Linked DNA regions of Homo sapiens. The protein of the gene in region 1 interacts with the protein of each later gene in a pairwise test. Each region holds a gene or a part of one and is shown in the gene's direction. Other genes may lie near its edges. The genes, in order: FXYD6, SLC47A1, SLC35E1, ELOVL2, SLC16A7, SLC35E3 and SVOP.

Region 1 (3,500 bases):
CATCTCTGTTTAATGGGCCCTGCTCCTCTGGAATTCCTTTGTGGAGACTGAGGTCTGTGAGGCAAGGTTAGATATTTGGGAACCAGTTTGTGTAGCTTTCTTTCTCTTGACCAACTGTTTGTTTTTGCAGCAGCTGAAAAGGAGAAGGAAATGGACCCTTTTCATTATGGTGAGCGATGGCAACCCTGGGTGCAGGGGTCAGGGGGAATGCAGCCCTGCCTGGCAGGAGGGGTAGGGGGAACAGACACCCTCTCCCTGGCCCCTTCCTCTCTCACCCTTGGTTCCTTTGGCAGATTACCAGACCCTGAGGATTGGGGGACTGGTGTTCGCTGTGGTCCTCTTCTCGGTTGGGATCCTCCTTATCCTAAGTAAGTTTGTTCTTTTGCTCACTCTGTTAAGAGCAATGACTGAGGCTGCTAAGCAGGTGGGGACAGTGTGAGAGCCTGGTTGGTCCCTCTCCTGGAGAGGAAAGGAGGCTGCCTGCCCTCCGTGTTATCTTCACGACCCAGTAGAGTGCTGGGCACATAGTAAGTGCTCAGTAAAACAGTGACACGGGAACAAAGAAAATGTCATATGACAATGAGCATAGATAGGAACGAGCAGGGTGGCTTCCCAGTGCTGTGTCTATAGGGCATGAATGGGGCAGTCACGGAGGAAGGAGACAGGTGCTGCCCTAGTGTGCGAGGGATGTGCCTCCGAGTTTGTTGTTCCCACATGAGCCTGATCTGCACAGATCCCTCTTTACTCACATGATCAAGAGGGCTGTGGGGGTGTAGCCATTCCAGCTATAGAATGTATTTCCTTTGCCCCAGAAGAAGCTACCCCATCCGAGGGCCACTGTGTGCAGCTGTGCAAACTGTGCACTGCCCAGGTCTAGGGGGTGCCATTTACATAGTCCCACAACCTGCACAGACCCTTGGCCCTGCTGTGGCCAAGCCAGCAGCATGACCTTGGATGGTTTCTTTGCTTTTCAGGTCGCAGGTGCAAGTGCAGTTTCAATCAGAAGCCCCGGTAAGGATGCCGTGGCAGTGGCCTTGGGGGGGTGATACTAGGTGGGACAGGAAGGGACCCCTGGTGTGTGACCCCCAAATGGGCATTCTCTTGGATTCTTGTCTCGGAGGCAGAACGTGTGTGTTGGGACGTAGGGCTGGAAGTTTGAGGACTGCCAGGTAGACTCTGGGGCAAAGGAGAGGTCAAAACATTGAAGGTCAGCCCATCCTGTCTCTTCTGATCTATGTGGGGGACGGGGAGTGGACAAGAAAGTACTGGAACCTTTTCTGGAGGCCCTTGGGACAGTTGAGCTTGGGAGAAGGGAAGCAGAGGGCTTCCTGGCCTCTCTAGATGCCCAGGTCCTCTCTACAGGACCTGCGACACAGTCCCCACTTGTCACCTGTTCATGAGGCTCTTTGAGCTGAATAGACACTTGGACCTTCTTTCTACTCCCACATAGAGGTCATACCCCATTAGTTTACTATAATAGCCAAGGGTAGCTTGGACCCCAGAAGTCCAAAGCGTGTGGCAGGACACACCCAAGCCCCCATGTGGCCCTAGCCTCCCCTTCCCATGAGGGCTGACATTGAAGGGTGCCTGTAAGTTCCCTCTGAGTCTGACCCTTCAGTCCAGACCTTTCCCTCTGTCCCATGCATCCCACAGCAGAGTGAGCTCCAGCCCCTCAGGGCACTGGGAGGAGCCTGACTGCAGGCAGCTGTGCCCCAGTGAGGAGCAGAACGATGCTCTCTGGGTCTGCCCTGGAGATCTCTGATGGGGCTGTGTGTCTCTTTCTCCTGCAGGGCCCCAGGAGATGAGGAAGCCCAGGTGGAGAACCTCATCACCGCCAATGGTAACTGTCCGTGACCACCTGCCCAGGTGGAAAAGAGGGAACAGAGAGACCCCTCTGTGGCTCAGGAAGGGACTGTTGCCAGGTGCATGGCCAGCCAGACATGCTCCCGCAGTGCCAGGAGAGTGGGTCTCCAGGGCCTCTGCAGCATTGCCCCCTCACTCCACCAAACAGGCTACTACTAGTGTCACCTGCTATTTACAGAGCATCTGCTTGTGCCAGGCACAGACCCCATATCATTTAATGGGCACACAGCCCTGAAATAGGCATCATTGTCCCCATTTTGTAACCGAGGGACTGAGAGAGGTTACCAGGTTCCTGTAAGCAGCAAGTAGCAGGGCCAGGATTGAACCCAGATCGTTCTGACTCGAAATCCCATGCCCGTCACCTCTTTGCTCCCCCAGAGTCAGGCAGAGACACGGCTGCTGTTGGGGGTGGCCCACGGGGGTGAGGAGTCTATACACTATAATCCATTCTGGTTTTCTTTCCAGCAACAGAGCCCCAGAAAGCAGAGAACTGAAGTGCAGCCATCAGGTGGAAGGTGAGATGCTCAGTGCCTGGATTGGCCCCTGTTGCCATCACCGTCTGCATCAGGGCCTGGACAGGGGTTCAGGCGGGAAGGATGGGGCTAGCTTTTGCAGTGGGCACAGCTTTTATTATGGGCCCTGCCCTGAGGAGCCTTCAGGAGTCTGAAAGGGGCTGTGAGAGAGACCAGGACTAGAAACACCCGAAGTGTCCCACACACATGCATGCCAACACCAGGAAATGGGGCTTCCACACAGCCCACTGGCCGAGTGCATAGGGCGTCATCCCAAGTGCAACATGGGAGAATTAGAGTTAGTGAAATGCTCCTAATCTCAAAGTAGCATAAAGATAATGGCTTTCCGTGGTGACTCAGAAAGTACTTTAGGGCCACTTGTTTTTTTAAACACCTTATTATGAAACTTCCCAACCCTAACCAAAAGTAGAGCAAATAGTATATGATCCTTCCCTCTCCACATTTAAGGGCACTGATTTTAGTATCTATTTCCATTGTTCATCGTAGGGGGCACAGGAGAGTAGTAACTGGCAAATGCTGTACAGTTTTCAGAGTGCCACCACACACACAGACTCACTCGAGTCTGCCAGAAAAAGAGGATGGGACAGGTGGGGTTTAGCCCATTTTATAGGTGAAACCAAGATGAGAGGGAATAGCCCCGTGGAGAGTGACAGCCCGGACTGTGAACTCAGGCCTTTGCGGCTGTGGTTCAGCGCCACTGCTCCCCTCTGTCCTGTGCGTCTCGCTTTATGACATGCCCTGGAATATCCTAAGGGAAAAGGTTTGTGTTTTGTCAGCTCACTTCTGCCTTTTTTTCCCCCCATACAAGTAAGGCATTATAGAAAGGTATATAAGTTTATCTCACATTGTAAGGTAAAAGAGGTTTCTGGATGATGAAGTGCCCGATGCACCAGCTTTGACTGTGCGTAACAATATCGTGTGCCTGTGTAGCATTTAAATTCTTTCCTAAGTGCTTTTGCATCCTCATAGCGGCCCGTGATGGGCAGAGCAGGGCTCATTACTCCCGTCTTCTGGATGGGGCTCTCGAAGGCAAGTGATCACCTAAGTGCGAATGGACGAAGATTCCGATCTAGGAGGCAGGTGCCCTTCCTGGTAGCTTGGTGT
Region 2 (3,500 bases), on another chromosome or scaffold:
AGTTAACCCTGACCCTTGAGGTCTCACTGGGCTTTAAATGAGGGCTTTGTAAAGAGAGTAACCCATAACACAATGGAAATGTGAGCCGAATGGTGCTTATTTCTCAAAAGATGCGTCCATTTTATCCTGGAGAAAGCTTGAGGAAGACTGGATTTGCAAGGGAGGGAACGTGCAGATACCTGGCCTCAGGTACTCCAGCTGTGCCTCTTCTTGGTCATCAGCCTCTCATCACCTGGCTGAATCAAAACAGCAAAAGTTCTGAAAAGTAACCCCAAAGATGGACCCCGGGCATTGCCCGGGATGTAACAGAGGTGGGATAGCCCAGGCCCCAGCTCAGGGAAATGTTTCCACTTGTGTGGGAAGGAGCTGGCGGACCTTCTAGGGTTACAGGGCAGAAATATCAGAGAAGGCAGGCAGGTTGAGGGGGGTGAGGTGGGGGATCTGGAGAGAACCGCTTTACCCGGGACACACAAAGGAAAAAATGCAGGCTGATCTTTTGAATTGTATCCTGAAGGCAATGGGGAAGATATTGATCAGGAAGTGGTTACTGACACCAAATTCTGCAGGGGAAGCCTGGTCAGAGACAGACAGGCCTAGGCCCGAGGAGGGGAAGACCTACAGGGAAGGTGGTTCCTTCCATTCAAAGGGTGAGAGGAAGTAGTCAAAGATGGCAGGAGCTGGACAGAGGAAAGCCGGGTGAGGTCCGGCCCCCACGCCTCTACTCCCCGTTCCCTCCTCCAATCCGTCCTCACCAAGGCCTTTGGCTTTAGCTCCTTAAATACCTCTCAGAGGGATCCACTTTTTCGTATCTCCGCTCTCATGCTCCAAATGGAGCCACCAAGTCCTTTTCAAACGCACATCTGAGCTTGTGCCTCCTGCTCAGAACCCTTTCCTTGGTTCTGCAAAGCCCTCTATGGCCTGGCCCTGGCCAGGCCTCCAGCCTCATCTCTCGTCCCTATCTCCTGGTTACACCCTCCACCCAGCCTCCTTTCAGTGCCTCAGCCTGGAAAGTCCTCCCCGACAGACAAGTCTCCAGCACCTGACTATTTGACATTGACTTGTTCATCATGCAGGTTTCAGCCCCACTTCATTTCCCCCAGAAACCTTCTCTGAATTCTCTGCTGCACCCCACAGCTCATCATGCAAATGTCTTGAGCTGTGTTATTTATTGCGTTTTGAACATCTTTCCCTATTCCACAGATGCTCCTTGGCTTACGATGGGGTTATATGCACTGAAAATATCATTAAGTCAAAATGCCTCTAAAGGATGAGATCACGGATTGCGAGAGTCCTGACTTGCGTGGGACGCATGCTATCCCCGTGCTGGCCAATTATCTTCAGTTCCATTGCAAGAGTAATAGCTGCCTTCTTTTCCCCAGAAGCAGGAGGCACAGATGGCCATTTTGTAGTTATGATGGGATGCAAAAACACAAAACAAAATACCCAAAAAACGCTGGCAACACAGTCCACTGTAGAGTGTCAGCTGCCTGCTCTCGTGATGGCAGGGCTGATGGGCAGCTGTGGCCCACTGCCCTGACAGGCACTGCAAGTCTGAGACTACACATCACTATCCGGGGAAAAGATCAATATCCCAAATTCCAAGTACAGTTTCTACTGAATGTACATTGCTTTTGCACCATTGCAAAGCTGAAAAATTGTAAGTCAGGACCATCTGTACTGTGGGTCCCGTGGGGCAGGAATGGAGTAATGGTGTCTAACTCACACCTGTTCCCCCAGTGCTGGGATGTACTTTGTGCTCCAAAGACAGTGGCCTTATGTAACCATCTGAGTTGAGAGTCAGGTGGCTGGGCTAGTTGCGAAACCTCCTGGGCTGTGCTTCCTCACATGTAAAAGAAGGGGGGCTGTCCCAGGTGACCTCTCAGCTTCTTTCCAGTGAGTGAACTTTCAGCAATCATGGGAGGGGGTAGGAGAGGCTGTCTGGAGGTGCCTGGCCCTGGAGAGCAACTTCTAAAGCTGCCAGGCGCTGAAGGTCTTTATCTGACTGCCAAGTTTGCTTATTGTTGTCTGGCCAAAATCTGAGCAGGGTCACTGTGACAAGAAGGGACGGAAGCACGGTCAGTCTGGAAGTTTCTTTGTTTGAAGCAGGGTCTCGCTGTGTCACCCAGGCTGGAATGCAGTGGTGAGCTGAGCTCAAGTGATCCTTCCTGCTTCAGGCTCCTGAGTGGCTGGAATTGCAGGTGCATGCCACCACGCATGCTATTTTTGGTATTTTCTGTAGAGACGGGGTCTCTACAAAATGTTGCCTGGGCTGGTCTTGAACTCCTGGGCTCAAGCAGTCCTCTTGCCTCAGCCTCCCCAAGTGCTGCGATTGCAGGGATAAGCCACCGTGCCCGGCCCAGTCTGGCAATTTCTGTCATCCATTCAGCTCTGTCCAAGCCACTGCCAGTTCAGGCTGTTCTTCAGACAGCAGCTGCTGAGACATCTAGCGGAACAGGCCTTTGTCCAGAATTGGTTCATTCCCCGAGCACAGAAATATGCTCTGTGACAGCACAGTCCCAGAGGGTCTGGAGCACTCTCAAAGTGTGGCCCTGGACCACATGCATCTTGCCTGGTGTGTATGAGGGAGCATGGGGATATACTGAAATGAAGATTCCTCAGCCCCAGGGAACTCCTGGGTCTTTTTTTTTTGAGATGGAGTCTCTCTCTGTCACCCAGGCTGGAGTGTAGTGGCTTGATCTCCGCTCACTGCAACCTCTGCCCCCTGGGTTCAAACGATTCTCCTGCCTCAGCCTCCCGAGTAGCTGGGATTACAGGTGTGCACCACTGCACCCAGCTAATTTTTTGTATTTTTAGTAGAGATGGGGCTTCACCATGTTGGCCAGACTGGTCTCGAACTTCTGACCTCAGGTGATCTACCTGCCTCGGCCTCCCAAAGTGTTGAGATTACAAGGCGTGAGCCACTGAGCCTGGCCTAACCTCCTGGGTCTTGCGATGGGCCAGGGCAAAGGCTCCCAGGTGGCCCTTATGTACATGATCCACAGTCTATGGCCAAGCGTTCACCCAAAGGGCTTGAAACCAGGATCTGAGAAGAGGTTAGTAAATCTGGACTCAAGCCAAGATCCCTGGCACGGACTTTCAGGATGGGCTGACTGCATGAGGCTGCCCGACTCAGGCAGTCGGAGTACAGGGTTGTTGCCGTAACCCTGGCAGAGCTGCGGCAGCTCTCAAAAAAACTATTTTTGCTGGCATTGACATTGAAGATGCATCTCACATGGATTAGTCTAACTCAGCTCGACTTCCTGGCCTTTTGTATCCGAGACATCTAATGATTCCCTTGGACTGGCCCCCACCCAAGTGAGAAAGATGTTCAAGGCAGTGCAATTTGTGATGGTAAGATCTGGGCAGCACTCCAAAGGCCGGGCAGTAGGGGAGACCGAGCACACTTCCATGTGAAGCCATGAAAAACAGCTCACAGGTGGCCCACAGGGAGGCAGGGAACTGTGGAGTGTAAACGTGATGTTCCGTGGGAAAGGAGAAGA
Region 3 (4,018 bases), on another chromosome or scaffold:
AGTGCAGTGGCGCCATCATAGCTCACTGGAACCTTGACCTGGGCTCAAGCCGATCCACCCACCTCAGTCTCCCTAGTAGTGGGTACCACAGGCGTGCGCCACCACGCCTGGCTAATTTTTGTATTTTTTGCAAAGATGAGGTTCTGCCATGTTATCGATGCCACGATCTCCAACTCCTGAGCTCAAGCAATCCGCCCACCTTGGCCTCCCAAAGTGCTGGGATTCCAAGCTTGACTCACTGCACCCAGCCGGTTGCTGCTTCTAATTTGACAAGTAAAAACACTGTAACGGAATTTTAACACCCTTTCCCCGAAAAAGTTGGAGGCACACGATGTGGAGAACAAATTATAGCCCTTGAATTAGTATAAGATCATCTTACTGAAAACCTCGTCCTGTTTTCCTCCACTGGGGCCTCCTGGGGCTGGTCCATCCCGGCTGGTCCTTGGACATCAGCCGTCAGGGCCCGGCACCTCCCCCTTCTGCAGAGCCTTGGAGACAGGTGTCCAAGGACGCTACCATGACCACGGTCCCCAGTGTGGCCAGGAAGCCTAAGACAAGTCGCTTCCCCATTCTGGACTTCGGTCTGTGAAATGCGGACAGTGATACCTACCGCACCGCGTTCCTAGGATTCAGTGGGATGATACCAGGGCCACGCCCGAGAACTGCGCACGTCGCGGTGGTTTCCAGAACATGATTCCAGGGATCGGGTGCTCCGGGATAGTCCCACTGCCAGAGTTTGGCCACGAGCGTGCGCCCCCAGTTTGCAGAGCGAGTTTAGCCCAAGAGCTTTTCACAAATGGTTTCTTTCCCTAAAAGGCCTTTTACCTTTGGTGTCAGCCGCCGCCAGCCATCAGGAATCAGGAATCTAGTTAGCGGTTGCCCTTGTATCCCTGGTCGAGGCCCTGATGTTTGGCCCACGCACAGACGCCGACGCTGCGAAGCCCTCCGCGCTTCTGTTCGCCCGTCCCGTTCGAGCTCCGGCTCCCGGTCACTGGGACCGCCCACGTCTCAGGTGGCACAGCTTGGACGCAGGTCTGTGTCCCCTTCTTCCGCTTCCGGCCTCGGCTCCGCCGGAAGCGCATCTACAGTGGACTGGGCCTGCACTCGAGACGTGGTGGCTGGCGCGTCGGCCGGCGCGGAGGGATGACGCGAGGAGGCAGCGACCAATGGGAAACGGCGTAGACCGGGGCGCCTGCCCCCCCGCCCAGCCCCGCCCCCGCCCGGCGTCGGGCCGTCGGACGGGCTGGAAGGGGCGGCCGCTCGGGCAGGATGGCGGCGGCCGCGGTGGGCGCGGGCCACGGCGCGGGGGGCCCGGGCGCAGCGAGCAGCAGTGGTGGGGCGCGCGAGGGCGCGCGGGTGGCGGCGCTGTGCCTGCTGTGGTACGCGCTGAGCGCGGGCGGCAACGTGGTCAACAAGGTGATCCTGAGCGCCTTCCCGTTCCCGGTGACCGTGTCGCTGTGCCACATCCTGGCTCTGTGCGCTGGGCTCCCGCCGCTGCTGCGCGCCTGGCGCGTGCCCCCCGCGCCGCCCGTCTCGGGCCCCGGACCCAGTCCGCATCCGTCGTCCGGCCCGCTGCTGCCGCCGCGCTTCTACCCGCGCTACGTGCTACCGCTCGCCTTCGGCAAGTACTTCGCGTCCGTGTCAGCGCACGTCAGCATCTGGAAGGTGCCCGTGTCCTATGCACACACCGGTAGGTTCCGCGCCCGGCCTCGGGGGCGGCGGCCGGGCCCGCCGCTTCGGGTTTGGGCGCATGGATAGGAGTGCGCCGCCCGGGGCGCGTCCCGCCGGACTGAGAAGTCAGCAGAGGGGCTGCCAAGGGTTTGGTAGGGGAGGGACACGCACGGGGTTCTCAGGGAGAAGAGGAGCTGAGAAGAGAGCTGAGAGGTAAGCAGGACAGACCACAACAGCCGTGGCAGGAGGAAGCCCTACCGAAAGAGAAGGGGCGAAGAGGTGTGAGGGGCTGCCAGGCCCTCCCATCCCGCCGTGGAGGTGGAACAGGTTGGGCCCTGAAATTCAGGCAGCCCCCTGAGTGCCCATCCCTCTCTTTGCAGTCAAGGCCACCATGCCCATCTGGGTGGTCCTCCTGTCCCGGATCATTATGAAGGAGAAGCAGAGCACCAAGGTAACCCCGGGCAGGGACTCTGGGCAGATGGGAGCTCCAGGGGGTTCCTCCCTGTTGCCAACTGGTGACGTGGTCAGGATCCTGGTCTGCAGGCTGCCTGGCTTCCCGTCAAATAGGGAAGTCAGTGTAGAGGTCTCCAGTGGCCTTTTACTACTCAAGTTCTAGAATCACCCTGTGAGCAGTGGTGTGTGGAGTATGTGTCCCTCTGTGATCTCTGCTGTGTGGTCTTAGGAACACTGTTGTCCCTTTCAGATCCAATTTTCCTCCCCGTTTTGATTCCCTACCTGGGTTTGCTGGTAGGTGATGGGTTGGTCACATCTTGGCCATACACCCCATGTGTGGCCTTTCCAGTGGGACTAGGGATGGATGGATCAGAACGCTGTCGGTTAGGTGTTCACTTTTTTTTTTTTTTTTTTGAGACGGAGTTTTACTCTTGCCCAGCCTGAAGTCCAGTGACACAATCTCAGCTCACTGCAACCTCCGCCTCCCAGGTTCAAGCAGTTCTCCTGCCTCAGCCTCTCAAGTAGTTGGGACTACAGACGTGCACTACCACACCTGGCTAATTTTTTTGTATTTTTAATAGAGACAGGGTTTCACCATGTTGCCAGGCTGGTCTCAAACTCCTGACCTCAAGTGATCCGTCCGCCTCAGCCTCCCAAAGTGCTGGTATTACAGGCGTCAGCCACTGCACTTGGCTAGGTTTTCACTTCTTGACAAGAGATTTCTGTCAGGGGACCTCTGGGATCAGAAGCCAGACGCGATCCAAGGAGTTCGATCTTGGCAAAATCCAGCAAAGTCTTAGAAATTAAAACAGCCAGAAGTTGTGATGGTCTGGGAACGGAAGCGAAAGTGGCACACAGGACTCAGGGCTGCATAAGGAGGATGCTTTGGGCACAGTCCAAATTCTGTTCAAGATGCCAAGCCAGGGTATTTCCTGGCTTGGGGCAAGAATAGCCATGGCTTTAGCCGGAGACAGCTTTATCCCGTATTCTTAAGTGGAAGTTGGGCGCTTGTTGTCTCAGCCGGAATCCATTTCATGCTGATGCTGGACACCGTGCCTCTTTTCCAAGTGGTTGGTTTCTGGCATGTTGTATTTTATGTAACTCAGAGAGGTAGTGCCCTGGATCGGCTTATAGAAATTGGGCCACCTATGGCTGATTTTTTTTTATTCCTGCCTGTCTTTGTCTCAGCAAGACCTGTGTGTGCTCTGTAGCCCTGCTCCCCCAGGGTGATGTCAGGCTGTGACTTGGCTCCTGAGAAGTCAGAGTTGTCCCTGAGGTGTGTAGCTGCATCACCGGATATCATCGTGTGTATCAGGTTTCCCCGTTGTACGGGACATTGTACCCAGCTTGGGCAAGGAGCCGGAACTTCACACAGTGAGGAAAGACTGGGAATTGGCCCGGTTAGGCAGCCAGACTAATTATAATGACATCATAACTTCTAGGAACCTGCCCTGCAAGGCAGATAAGGCCAGTAGTCATCATTCCTGATCTCAGGTTTTCCTGAGATGGACTGAGAGGGGAGAATCATGTGCCTGAGGGCCACAGCCTGATATTCGGGAAGCTGGAATTCAGGTCCACAGCCCTCGGTCTGCCCTCCTTGTGGCATGACCACTCCCTCCTAAAATCTCCACCTCTCCTATCTCTCCTTAAGAGTGTTTGTTTTTCTGAGACGGAGTCTCCCTCTGTTGCCCAGATTGGAGTGCCGTGGTGCGATCTCAGCTTACTGCAAGCTCCGCCTCCTGGGTTCAAGCGATTCTTGCCTCAGCCTCCCGAGTAGCCGGGATTGCAGGCGCGTTCCATCACTCCTGGCTAATTTTTGTATTTTCAATACAGACAGGGTTTTACCATGTTGGCCAGGCTGGTCTCAAACTCCTGACTTCAAGTGATCTGCCCT
Region 4 (3,500 bases), on another chromosome or scaffold:
TGTCAAGTAGATATTATGTATCTAGTTATGTTCAGAAAACAGGGCCCTGCTATTCAGGGTTAGGTGGATGATCGTCTGGGTTGGACAGTTGGATATGTATCATCTAACTTGACAGGTTTGCATTTCTGGGAGTAGACATTGATAAGGGGAAAGAAGTTGCACCAGAAACTTCTTTAATGGCCCAATGTGGTGAAAATACGCCAGCATCAGTAGCTCATAGTAATTCTACAGTTACAGATTCACGCATTTGTAGCTTTTCTTCTTAATTGAATTGGGACATAACTGACTTTGACAATGAACAATTCTAATAAATAGTTAATTTATGACATTTTAAATCTAACCATTTAATAATTGGAGAGCATAACTTGTTCTGAAATTTATGTGACAGTTTAGAACCTGAGATCTGAGGTCATTCGTGGGCTTGAATCCTGACACCAGCATTTAACTGTGTGACCTTGGGCTTCAGTATTTTATCCTGTAAAAGATGATAATATTTCATAAGGTTTTCGGGAGGAACAAATATGATGGTGCCCTTTATGTGTCTAAAACAGTGCTTGGAGTGCTTAGTAAATATTAACTATTATAATGATGTGTGTTCTTTTTTCTCCCATATCTATTTTAGTTGAGACACTTCAGAATGATGTCTCTGTCCCTTTTGTGGTCTTAATATACAACTAATATTGCTGTCCAATAGAAATATAACATAAATCGCATATGTAATTTTCAGTTTTCTACTAATCATATTTAAAAAGTACAGAGACAAGTGAAATTAGTTTTAATAATGTTATTTAACCCAATCCATGCAAATATTTCAACATGTAATCAATGCAGAAAAAGATTTTTCCATTGTTTTTTTTCATAGAAAATCTTCAAAATCTAGTGTGTATTTTATGCTTAGAGTGCATCTCAGTTCAGGCTAGCCGTATTTCAGCGGCTCAGTGGCCACCTGTGGTTAGAGGCTACCGTATTGGACAAAGAGCTCTAGATTGTACACAACTTCCAAGTTTACCTCTTAAAGCTCTTACACCCTTTCCACTAGTGAGAACCTCACTGCCACCTTAAACCCAGCATTACAAAAAGAAAGCTACTCATCTTTCAGACTCTCTTCTCTGTTCTCTTTTGCTGTTAGTAATTCCACCAGCTCTTCAGTCTACTGTGTCTGAAATCTGATTCTTATTCTCTTTTTTATTTTATATTGTTTGTTGTCTAATATTCTCATATTTTTACTTGAAAATATTTCAAAATCTCTTTCCTCCACCCCTTGAGCCCCCTTTCCACCATTTTTGCCTTTTCTACAGATCTCCTCTTTTGTAGACTCTTTGTTTTAACTTTTTTACTTCCTGTCTCTTGGAAAATGTATATCTCTCGCTGAATCACTGGGCTCCACATTCTCTCCATTCCTTCCTCAGCCCTTTTTCATGTTGTCAGAAATGGTTTCTATTTTATAGGTTATTCCTACCCTTAATACCTTTCCTTTGTCAAATATCCAGAGAAGTATAATTACTTTCACAGATAGTCTGATAGTAAAATGATCCACTCAAGAAAAGAAGCACAGATAAAGGAGAAAAATAAGCTAGGGGAAGGGAAGATGAAATCATTCTTTGAGTTTTATTTTCCTTTCAGGAAATATCAGAGGGAATCGATTCTAGTAGTCTGTAGTACAGTAGAGAAATTATATGACTATTTATTTTATGTTTCAAAATAGCTAGATGAGAATTGTAATATTTCTAACATAAGAAAAGATAAATGTTTGAAGTGATAGATATTCCAGTTACCCTAACTTGATCATTACATTGTATACATGTACCAAAACATCACATGTACCCTGGGAATATGTACAACTATGATGCATAAATTAAAAAATAGTAACAGAGAAATATCATGGAACTGATTAATAATCACAATCACCACCACCACCACAATAGCAATGAAACTTGATGTTTATGCAGTGCTTTCTAAGAAACAGGGCACCTTCCTGTGTGCCTGGTGAACAGAGGGAGAAAACGAAAGGCACTGGACCAAGAGTCAAGAAACCTGGGTTCTAGCCCTAGCTTTATTGTTTACTAGCTCCATTCCCTTGCTTAAGTTGCTTTGAGACACTGTTTACTCACTTGCTAAATGGTGTATTATCTCTGTCACAAGATTGTTTTGTTAGAATCAAATGGGGCCTCAGCATCTTTACATTGGCTGCCCTTTGGCTGTATACATCTTTCCCCCAGAGAGCTTTATGTCTGTCTGCTTAATACTTTCATGATTAGACCTACCCTAACCACTCTACTAAAACTGGAACCTGCCTTACCATATGTCACACACCATATTCACACACACAGTTGGATATGTACCACACCTGATCCTCTTACACTGCTTTATTTTTTTTCCACAGCACTTAAAACTAGCAGTTTGCTAATTTACATAGCACTTGGAACCATTTAATCATTAATCTCTTGATAAATTTAAAATTATTTAATTATCACAATTCAGTTTGAGCATGTTTCAGTAATACAGCTGCTTCATCAATACACATTTGCCTGTGTAACCTTTTAGTAAATGATAATATGTATTCCTACAGCATATTTACACTTCATAGTCATATTTGTGGAAAGGGCCAGGTTATGTCATTTTTAAATAATTTAATCCATATTTCATCATAAGTTTTTAATGAAATTAAAATGCATATGTATTTCTATTTTTAGATAAATCTATACTTATAGCATTAAGTTCTTGCTGAAATTAAAAATGATTATCTTAAAATATAAACAAAGCTATGATATATGGATTTGCTGAGTAATTTTATTTTTATTTTTATTTATTTATTTATTTATTTTTGAGCTGGAGTCTTGCCCCATCACCAGGCTGGAGTGCAGTAGCGCAATCTTGGCTCACTGCAACCTCTGACTCCAGGGTTCAAGCGATTCTCCTGCCTCAGCCTCCCGAGTAGCTGGGACTACAGGCGCACACCATGCTGAATAAATAATTATTTTTACTTTACATATATGTGTGGCCTTTAGTTAGCATAACTTAAATATGATTCAAGTACTGTATAATAATACTATTTTACATTTATTAATCAGTTGAATGTTTTTCAATGCATTTTAATCCACCTTAACTCTTTCTGAAGCCTCACAAAAAAACTTTTGTGAGAGGCAAGTCCTGTAGCAACATACCTACTTTACAGTTTCAAAGAAGATAAATAATTTGCCCAAGGTCACATACTAGAGGTAGCAAAACCAGCTCTAAATATTCTCAATCCAAAATAACCACCTCTTCTGCTATTCCATATAGCCTTAGCCTTTGAGAAAGGCAGTAGTACTTTTCCCCATTATTACATATGAAAATGGAAAAATCAGAGTGACTTCCCCATGTAGTTTCTTTCCCATAAATTACAGGGATGGATAGATAGATATGGATATATACATATATTGCATATATACACTTAAACATATTAAATATATAAAGTCTTAAGTTTCATTTCATATATACAGAAAATGGAACCTGCAAAG
Region 5 (3,500 bases), on another chromosome or scaffold:
TAATACAACTTACCCTACACCGTAGCTTATTTTTCAAGTTTCTCTGAACATCTTTGTTGTCATTCACCTCTTTGTCTATTTGTTCTGTAGAGAAAACAAGTGTCATTGCTTTTGTCTTCTCCATCTAGACTTTTGCAGTCCTTAGACTATAGTTCTCCTTAGCTCTATTCAAATAGTGCACTTGCAAGGCGCTGCATTCTTCTCAAAGTCAGCCATGATGCACATATTTATAATTACATACACATATAATTGAATATGATTTTAGAGTCTTGAAAAACTGATCTTCTTTGGCACTATCCTGAATGTTTCTGATTTTCTTAAAGTGCCTGACAATATTGAGTAACAAAGCTTACCATCACCACATTGCACCATTATGTATTATTCTGTCTCCATCAATGCAGTGACATCACTGATACATCATACCAACAAGATTTCTAACCACAACCATTCAGAGCACTAATTAGCATCTATATTGAGAATATAAGATTAATATTACAAACTTGACTTTACTCATCTCTCTTTAAGATTTTGATTTCTGCACAACCATATGCAGAACTCATGTTTGAGAAGGCACTTAAAAGCTGAAAGGCCCAATTATCAGTAATTATAATGCTTGCATGATCAAAATTACAAATTATCTTTGTTGATACAATTAAAAATGAGTAATTTTCTGAGCTTATGTCACTTTTTTATAGTTCTGATTTTCTCTTCTTTCCTATCAGTTGTTTGTACACTGGAGATTTTAGCTCTTTACAGGGTGCTACAATCTGGTTTATTTTAGTCTTCTCTCCTCTACTGCTTTTTCTTCACTTTAATTCATTTATGTGCAAATCAGGGAAGAATTGCTGTAGTATTGAGAATGGTCATTTTAAAAGTCTCTACCTTAAGAGCAAAATTAATATTGCAAAATGAATTTTTGATTTTACAGAAGCATATGGGAATTTAGATCAAATTACATCTCCCATCCCAATCTCCTGCTTCTTCATCATCTCCTAAATGTTTTCCTTTCTATGTTTTTATAATATCTAGGTAAAACTTGTTTAGCATTTTTTATTTAATTATGGACATATTTAGTATGGACTTTTGTTTCTTTGGTATAGTTAGTTACACTTGTTTGCATGATCTACATGTTTTTCAGTCTCCATATATACTTGTTAATAAGGTGAGCAATATTCAGGAATATTTCAGTAGGCAATTAATGATCATAAATTTATTCACATTTCAGTAAATATTTTTCACATGATCAAACAGGATTTTTTGTTTCTTTTTAATTTAAATATGGCAAAATAAGCTAGAGAATCTCAGTGTGAAAACACTGATACTGAACATTCTATTAAAATAGAATAAGTTCGTGTAGGGACATGGATGAAATTAGAAATCATCATTCTCAGTAAACTATCGCAAGAACAAAAAACCAAACACCGCATATTCTCACTCATAGGTGGGAACTGAACAATGAGAACACATGGACACAGGAAGGGGAACATCACACTCTGGGGACTGTGGTGGGGTCGGGGGAGGGGGGAGGGATAGCATTGGGAGATATACCTAATGCTAGGTGACGAGTTAGTGGGTGCAGCGCACCAGCATGGCACATGTATACATATGTAACTAACCTGCACATTGTGCACATGTACCCTAAAACTTAAAGTATAATAATAATAAATAAAATAAAATAAAATAATAAAAATAAAAATAAAATAGAATAAGTTGATAAAAGCTCCTCTGTTCAGAAAAACAAAAGAATGGCATTTTATCTCACATAAATTTAGGATGAAATTTTAAAACATTCTTTTGACTAAGACTTTAATTCTTATATGCATCTAAAATAAATGTTTTGAGTTAGACTCAGTTTATATAGCTTCCTCGTTAGAGTACACATTTTTTTTCTCATCCTCCGAATCTCAAGAGTACATATTTCTGACAAGCTTTTCAATGGTACGATGGATTTTATTTTTCTATCATCAACTTTCTATATTTAACTAAAGCATTAGTATTTCTAGATTTAGTGAAATAGCAAATATGAATTAAAATATTTATTTCTAAACATTAGATCTAATTGTATTTTGATTTGTTTTGATATATTTATGTCTCAGAAGATATGTTTAATGAATTCATTTCATCCTCTCAACCCTCAGTTTTGATAGGTATCCACATTTTTACCATATAAAACTAGACTGGATTAAGGATTTTGCCTAAACCTATACCAATACTCTGAATAAATGCAGGGTTGGAGATAGAATTCAGGTCTTTTAACTTCTAACACACTTTTTTCTCCATTGCACTACAGAAGCCGTAAGGTCATAATGATGATCTTTGTAGAGTAAATAAAATATTTTCCTAGAAATATATATAACAACCCTACTTGATAGTTTATAGCCCAAATGAATATATTTTTCCAATCATGGTTTGCAAAATCATGTTTGCAAACTTACTTTGAAGACTATTTCCTGATTGCCACGGCAGATAATTCGTGGCAAATCAGAAATAATATTTAGTGAGATTAATTATTTTGCACAATATATGTTGTTATAGCAATATCAAAATCATTTAAAACATCAATATTGTATTAATAGAAAACATGTCAATATCTCATTAATTCCTTTTTTATTTTATGTTCCTTTTTATTTTAGAAGCAGTGTTCATTTTTTTCTGAAGTAGAACGCCAGAGCACAGAACACACAGTTCAAGTTTAAATTATTAAATTGTATGCAAGAAATTATTGCCATAGCATAGTCTTGAGGAGAACACCTCTACAGTATTTCTTGATCTAAGAACCTGAACATATGTTAATGAAATTATTAGAGTAAGTTCTATCTCAAAAATTTCTTATTTTATGAATGTTTTCTTCACCTAATAAACAATACTAAAATCCATAACAGCTGTCTGGCAACAGTGTAATTAGAGCTTCTTTTATGTTAGAGATTCCATCTACCTCTGCATCTTATCTAGCTAGATACAGTCTTTCTAAACTTTCTCCTTTATTCCCATGTAGAGAACAAACAAAAATCACACCTAAATTAAAGATCTGTGGTGAAGGGGAAGAGGGGTTGCTATTAGGAGTTTTCCCGGTAAAACTGTAAAAACAGTAATCTGCATTCAGTATTTGTTTGCCTAGTTCATCAAGATATTTACCCTAAAAACACATTTTAATAAAAATTTGGGTAAACTCATGTATCGCAGTAAAATCTTTTATGAATTGGGTGGGCCCTAAAAACATCTGTAGTACGTGATGTGTTTGGTTAGATTCAGCCAAACCGACACCCGTATGCTAAGACTGCATTGTCATTCTGACAGGAGGCAGGCCTCAGTAGTTGCAGTGAGTGCATTTACTAATATAAGGATCCTTCTTTGTAGTGACAACAAAAATGAGATTGTAACTTAATCAAATATGAGTCAGATATAGTAATTCCTGATATTGCAGATGAAAGAGCAGGGTCTTTTCAAGTGCTTGCTACAACTGACTAAATTTGAAGCTTTTTATGTAAAAGTTCTTCTCC
Region 6 (3,500 bases), on another chromosome or scaffold:
GCCTGGGCAACATAGGAAGACCTCATCTCTACAAAAAATTAAGAAATGGGCAGGGTGTGGTGGCTCATGCCTGTAATCCTGGGAATTTGGGAGGCTGAGGCGGGTGGATCACTTGTCAGGAGTTCAAGACCAGCCTGGCCAACATGGCGAAACCCATTCTCTACTAAAAATACAAAAAAATTAGCTGAGGCTGGGTGCGGTGGCTCATGCCTGTAATCCCAGCACTTTGGGAGACCAAGGCAGGCAAATCACCTGAGGTCAGGAGTTCAAGACCAGCCTGGCCAACATGGCAAAACCCCGTCTCTACTAAAAATACAAAAATAAGCCAGGCGTGGTGGCACACACCTATAATCCCAGCTACTCAAGGAGGCTGAGGCACAAAAATCACTTGAACCCGTGAGGTGGAGGTGCAGTGAGCTGGGATCACACCTGTCTCAAAAAAAAAAAAAAAAAGAATTAGCTAAGTGTGATGGCATGCTTCCTGTAATCCCAGCTACTCAGGAAGCTGAGGCATGAGATTTGCTTGAACCTGGGAGGTGGAGGTTGCAATGAGCCAAGATTGTGCCACTGCACTCCAGCCTGGGCCACAGAGCAAGACTCTGTCTCAGAAAAAAAATAAATAAATAAAAAAGCCAGGCATGGTGGCACATGCCTGCAGTCCCAGCTACTTGGGAGGCTGGGGTGGGAGGATCACTTGAGCCCAGGAGGTCGAGGCTGCAGTGAGCCAAGATAGCACCACTGCATTTCAGCCTGGGCAACAGAGTGAGACCCTGTCTCAAAAAAAAAAACCAAACCAAAACAACAACAACAAAAGAAAGTGAAGGGCCTCTGGAACCCTATCACACTAAGGTAATTACCTTTACCATTTTGGTGAGGATCATTTCATGGATCTCTTTTGTATAAACACATAGGTACACATGCATGTGTGTATAATTTTAGATATGGAATGATATCATAGATGCTGTTTTTATTGCAGATTCCTTTTCCCCAGCCTTCCTAGCCACACACTCTTCCACATTCCATTACCCCCTAATCTTCCACATTCCATTACCCCCTAATCCGTGCCCCTTGAAGTCATGTTAACTTTCTAAGTGCTTGTTCTTCCATATTTTTCTCCATGCCGTATATATCCATACACACACACACACACACACACACACCCCAATTAAACATCTATTTCTTTTCTTTTTTTTGAGATGGAGTCTCACTCTGTCGCCCAGGCTGGAGTGCAGTGGTGCAATTCTTGGCTCACTGCAAACTCCGCCTCCCGGGTTCAAGCGGTTCTCCTGCCTCAGACCCTAGCTGGGACTATAGGCGCACACCACCACGCCCAGCTAATTTTTGTATTTTCAGTAGAGATGGGGTTTCACCATCTTGGCCAGGATGGTCTCAATCTCTTGACCTCGTGACCCACCCGCCTCGGCCTCCCAAAGTGCTGGGATTACAGTCATGAGCCACCGTGTCCGGCCACATCTGTTTCTTTGACAAAAGTGGAATCCTATTACATATGCTTTTCTGTATCTTGCTTTTCTGACTTAATAATATCTCCTAAAAATCTCTCCAAAGCATTCTTTCCAGGGTCTATTTTGTTGTTGTTGTTGTTTTTGTTTTGTTTTGTTTTGTTTTGAGTCAGAGTCTCACTCTGTCACCCAGGCTATAGTGCAGTGGCGTGATCTCTGTTCACTGCAACCTCCACCTCCTGGGTTCAAGTGATTCTTGTGCCTCAGCCTCCCGAGTAGCTGGAATTAGAGGTGTGCGCCACCATGCCTGGCTAATTTTTTTGTATTTTTGATAGAGACAGGGTTTCACCATGTTGGCCAGGCTGGTCTTGACCTCCTGACCTCAAGTGATCCACCCACCTCGGCCTCCCAAAGTGCTGGGATTACAGGCGTGAGCCGCCGCGCCCAGCCGGTGTCTGTGTAATAGCCCCTCTGCATATTCACTTTTTTCCCAGTTCTTTACCACTATGAACAATATTGTGATAAACATCCTTGTACATCATGTGTTCTCATGTACTGATAACTTTTTTCCTATGGAAATGAGTCCCAGGAGTGGAATTGGCAAATCAAGGGCATATGTATTTTGGGGACTTTTATTTTTTAGAGACAGTGTCTGGCTATGTTGCCCAGGCTGGCCTCAAGCTCCTGAGCTCAAGTGATCCCCCCAACCTCAGCCTCCCAAGCAGCTAGGACTAATGCGTTGGGGACATTTTAAGTTAGAATGTATAATCCTCCTATGTCTTAGTCAGTTCAGGCTGCTATAACAAAACTACAATGGACTGGGTGGCTTAAACAACAAATACTCATTTCTCACAGTTCTGAAGTCTGGAAGTCTGAGAACAGGCTGCCAGTATGGTTGGGTTCTTGGTGAAGGCTCTTTTCCTGCTTTATAGATGGCAGTCTTCTTGCCATATCCTCATCTGACAACAAGGAAGAGGAGAAGCAAGCTCTCTTGTATCTCTTCTTATCATAGGGACTAATCCCATTCATGAAGGCTCTGCCCTTATGCCATAGTCACCTCCCAAAGGCCCCACCTCCCAATACCATCACCTTGCGGGTGAGGATTTCAACATAGGAATTTTGGGGGGACACAAACATTCAGTCCATAATACCTTACTTATCAGGAATTCCTGCTTCCCACAAGAGTTCCCACAACTCTTGGAACACAGTCAGTGGGAATATCTTTTTTGTTGGTCGCATCAATTTATCAAGCACCTATATAGCCCTTAGTCTGTTCCCAGCACTATTCAAAGCACTATGTAAATATTAACTTATTTAATCTTCATAACTTTATTAGGTTGATGCTATACTAATACTATTTGTATTAGTCCATTTTATGATGTTATAAAAGCATACCTGAGACTAATTTATAAAGAAAAGAGGTTTATTTTGGCTTATGGTTCTGCAGACAGTACAAGAAGCATTAGTGCTGGCATCTACTTCTAGTGAGGGCCTCAGGAAGCTTACAGTCATGGTGGAAGGTGAAGGGGGAGCAGGCATGTCACATGGCGAGAGAGGGAGCAAGAGAGAGAGGGGAGGAAATGCCAGTCTCTTTTAAACAGCTAGCTCTCATGAGAACTAATAGAGCAAGAACTCACTCATTACCCTGGGGAGGGCACCAAGCCATTCATGAGGGATCCAGCCCCATAACCCAAACACCTTCTACTAGGCCTCACTTCCAACATTGGTGATCAAATTTCAACATGAGATTTGGAGGGAACAAACATCCAAACTATATTACCATTGTTATTATTTTTACTGATGAGGAAACCGAGAGATAAAGAGTTAGTAACTGGCTCGCAATCCCACAGCTAATAAGCAGAAACACAATTTGGATACATGCCTTCTGGGTCCAAAGTCTGTGTTCTCCAGTGCTCCGCTCTGCTTCCCCTAAGTAGACCAGTAGTTATTTCAAATTTATATATTTTACCATATACACTTTTTTTCTAAAGTAGAGGTCATTGGACCATCTATCAGATAATATTTCCACTTTGCAAAAGT
Region 7 (2,914 bases), on another chromosome or scaffold:
CCGTCTCTACTAAAAATACAAAAAAAAATTAGCCAGGTGTGGTGGCGGGTGCCTGTAGTCCCAGCTACTCAGGAGGCTGAGGCCGGAGAATGGCGTGAACCCAGGAGGCAGAGCTTGCAGTGAGCCGAGATCGCGCCACTGCACTCCAGCCTGGGCGACAGAGCAAGACTCCATCTCAAAAACAAAACAAAACAAAACAAAAACTCTTTGCCTTGTAAATAGCCTGCCTTTTTCAAAAAAATCAATATTATCAAATGATACAAGAGCTATCACAAAAGGCACCCAAACTTCTGAATATGTGAGACCTTTAGCTGAGAACATTTGTATCTAATTTTGAACAATCCTATTCAAAAAGCTCCTATTTTCGTTAATGGAAATGCCATGTTTCTCTTAGAGTTACGAAAGATCTCAGAAAGTGGCAAAAGATATTTAATGTAGCCAGAGCTATATATTTCTGTTTTTCTCGTACTTCAAGTATTCTGAAAAACATATAACTGACCTTGGTGGTGTTCACAATGGGATGAAACAGTATCTTAGGAATTGACTTTGAAATTAGTATGGAAATTCATTGTTTTTAATATAACATTGAGCAACAGAAAGCCTTGAATGATAAGATCAAGAGTCTCCCCTGCCATTATTTTCAATGGCAAAAACTGCAATTACTTTTTTTTTTTTTTTGAGATGAAGTCTCAGCTCACTGCAACTCTGTCTCCCAGGTTCAAGCGATTCTCCCTCCTCAGCCTCCTGAGTAGCTGGGATTACAGGTGCCCGCCTTGATGCTTGGCTAATTTTTGTATTTTTAGTATAGACAAGGTTTCACCATGTTGGTCAGGCTGGTCTCAAACTCCTGACCTCAAGTGATCCGCCCACCTTGGCCTCCCAAATGCAATTACTTTTGCACCAACCTAAGAACAGTAATCTCAGTCAATAGTGGCTTAAACCATTAGAACCAAAACCAGGCAGAGATCAGAGAAGGTTCAACGCTCAACAATGTTATCAAGAACCCAGCTTCTTTTTGCCTTTTCTTTTCACCATCCTCTGCATGTTGGCCATCTGACCCTGTGCTTGAAACCTCATGGTCACAAAATGGCTGCCCCTGTGCTGGACATCATATTTCTTTTCAAAGAAGGTAGAATGGGAAAGGAGCAGTCATAAAAGGTTTTCTTTCAGAAGAGTCTGTTGGTTTTGGTTAGAAAAGGAAGTCCCCTGGCAGATTTACCATTGCTTCTCATTGATCAGACCTGGGTGTCATGCCCATCCCAGCATGAGTCCTGCTGTAGGGCTGGAAGGAAGGGCCTACGAGCACCAAGGGATACCCACAGCCTCCTGAACACAAAATTGGGATTCTGTTAGCACAGAAGAAGGATAGCAATGGCTGTTGGATGGGCGATGGTTGCAAGGAGCCTGCCGTGGATGTGTAGGCCACAGAGCTCTCATCAGCACTGTTTTCGTGGCCAGGAACAGAAATTCTACTCAGGATAATTAAAATTAAGGAACAGAGCTTTATTATAAGACTGGGATCGGTAGTTAATTTCCTACAGGGGAAATTCAGGGCATGTAAATCAGTGAAATGGAAAAGGTGTAAGGACAAGAGAAACACCAGCCCTGTCTGCAGGGGGGGGCTGCAACTCCCTTCCAGCTGATGTTGTTCCACCATGGGTCCAGTGTGACCAGATCTTACAATGTTCAAAAGAGGAGTCTAGGTTTTTCTGTGAAATCTCCAAATATTAGTATATTGGATCAAAAATGTTCAAATGATGTGTGAGCTCAATAAAATGCATCTGCAGTGCAGCTTTGGTTGATGGGCTGATGGTTCACTCTGACAGTTTAGAGAGATTGCATAGGAATAAAGTACAGCCTGGTGTCATTCAGAGGAACAGGGATCTGGGAAACCACTGGGGCCCAAGACAGCTGCCCCTCTGAATCTGTGGCTCTTGTTTCTTCCCTTTTCTGGCAGAAATGAGTCTAGCTTCCATCTGTTTCCTTGTGGCTGCTGTGTATGCATAATCATGCACAGAGCTTCCATAGCCTCATAACCCAGCTCTGCAAACATACCTGACTCAGCTGCTCAGTGCCCCACTCCCAGATCTTCAGGAATGAAGCTGATTGGCCCAGTTTAGTGTTGGATTGAGTCTTGGTCCAATTCAATTGGGTCAGGAAGAAGTGGTGGAGAGGTACAGACACGGTGGCATTGGCCTGCCCTTTAGCAGGGTGGTGCAGACAATTGCTGGTATGCCTGGAATCTGCAGTGACATGTGCATAAACTCTCAAGTCTATTCATCAGAACTCTCTTACAGATCATAACGTGGCAAGTGGTCAGTATGCATGGAATATCCAGCATGTCCTGGACATGTTATTCAACACTGAGGATGCAAAATATCATAAGACATGGTCCTGGCTGGGTGCAGTGGCTCATGCCCATAATCCCAGCACTTTGGGAGGCTGATGCGGGAGGATCACTTGAGGCCAGGAGTTTGAGGCGGCAGTTCGCTTTGATCGTGCCACAGCATTCCAGCCTGAATGATAGAATGACAGATCCTGTCTCTTAAAAAACAAAACAAAACAAAACAAAACAAGCCAGGTGTGGTGGCTCATGACTGTAATCCCAGCACTTAGGAGGCCAGACGGGAGGATCGCCTGAGCCCAGAAGTTTGAGACCAGCCTGGGCAACATGACAAAACCCTGACTCCAAAAAGAATACAAAAATTAGCCAAGCCTGGTGGTGTGCTCCTGTGGTCCCAGCTACTTGGAGGCTGAGGTGGGAGAATCACCTGAGCCTGGGAAGTCGAGGCTGTAGTGAGCTGTGACCATGCCACTGCACTCCAGCCTGGGTAACAGAGTGAGACTCTGGCTCAAGAAAAATAAAAGAAGAAGGAAGAGGAGGAGAAGGAAGGAGGAGGAGGAGGAAGAGGAA

The links.
Region 2: the proteins of FXYD6 (region 1) and SLC47A1 interact in binary tests that used the Homo sapiens proteins (3 or more experiments, as listed by UniProt).
Region 3: the proteins of FXYD6 (region 1) and SLC35E1 interact in a two-hybrid assay, tested with the Homo sapiens proteins (one large-scale study listed by BioGRID and IntAct).
Region 4: the proteins of FXYD6 (region 1) and ELOVL2 interact in binary tests that used the Homo sapiens proteins (3 or more experiments, as listed by UniProt).
Region 5: the proteins of FXYD6 (region 1) and SLC16A7 interact in binary tests that used the Homo sapiens proteins (3 or more experiments, as listed by UniProt).
Region 6: the proteins of FXYD6 (region 1) and SLC35E3 interact in binary tests that used the Homo sapiens proteins (3 or more experiments, as listed by UniProt).
Region 7: the proteins of FXYD6 (region 1) and SVOP interact in binary tests that used the Homo sapiens proteins (3 or more experiments, as listed by UniProt).

The regions. Positions count from the first base shown.
Region 1 is NC_000011.10:117,838,659-117,842,158, reverse strand, and holds part of FXYD6 (FXYD domain-containing ion transport regulator 6 precursor), read left to right. Parts: intron 1-130; coding exon 131-169; intron 170-293; coding exon 294-368; intron 369-974; coding exon 975-1,011; intron 1,012-1,790; coding exon 1,791-1,840; intron 1,841-2,328; coding exon 2,329-2,357; coding exon of another isoform or gene 2,358-2,378; intron 2,379-3,500. Other genes in the region: FXYD6-FXYD2 read-through protein isoform 1 precursor, read left to right, coding at 131-169, 294-368, 975-1,011, 2,329-2,378. UniProt on the Homo sapiens protein: Associates with and regulates the activity of the sodium/potassium-transporting ATPase (NKA) which catalyzes the hydrolysis of ATP coupled with the exchange of Na(+) and K(+) ions across the plasma membrane.
Region 2 is NC_000017.11:19,536,854-19,540,353, forward strand, and holds part of SLC47A1 (multidrug and toxin extrusion protein 1), read left to right. Parts: intron 1-3,500.
Region 3 is NC_000019.10:16,569,616-16,573,633, reverse strand, and holds the start of SLC35E1 (solute carrier family 35 member E1), read left to right. Parts: upstream 1-1,218; 5' UTR 1,219-1,269; coding exon 1,270-1,690; intron 1,691-2,051; coding exon 2,052-2,122; intron 2,123-4,018. UniProt on the Homo sapiens protein: Putative transporter.
Region 4 is NC_000006.12:11,037,806-11,041,305, reverse strand, and holds part of ELOVL2 (very long chain fatty acid elongase 2), read left to right. Parts: intron 1-3,500.
Region 5 is NC_000012.12:59,784,529-59,788,028, forward strand, and holds part of SLC16A7 (monocarboxylate transporter 2), read left to right. Parts: 3' UTR 1-3,500. UniProt on the Homo sapiens protein: Proton-coupled monocarboxylate symporter. Catalyzes the rapid transport across the plasma membrane of monocarboxylates such as L-lactate, pyruvate and ketone bodies, acetoacetate, beta-hydroxybutyrate and acetate.
Region 6 is NC_000012.12:68,752,676-68,756,175, forward strand, and holds part of SLC35E3 (solute carrier family 35 member E3), read left to right. Parts: intron 1-3,500. UniProt on the Homo sapiens protein: Putative transporter.
Region 7 is NC_000012.12:108,907,241-108,910,154, reverse strand, and holds the end of SVOP (synaptic vesicle 2-related protein), read left to right. Parts: 3' UTR 1-2,414; downstream 2,415-2,914.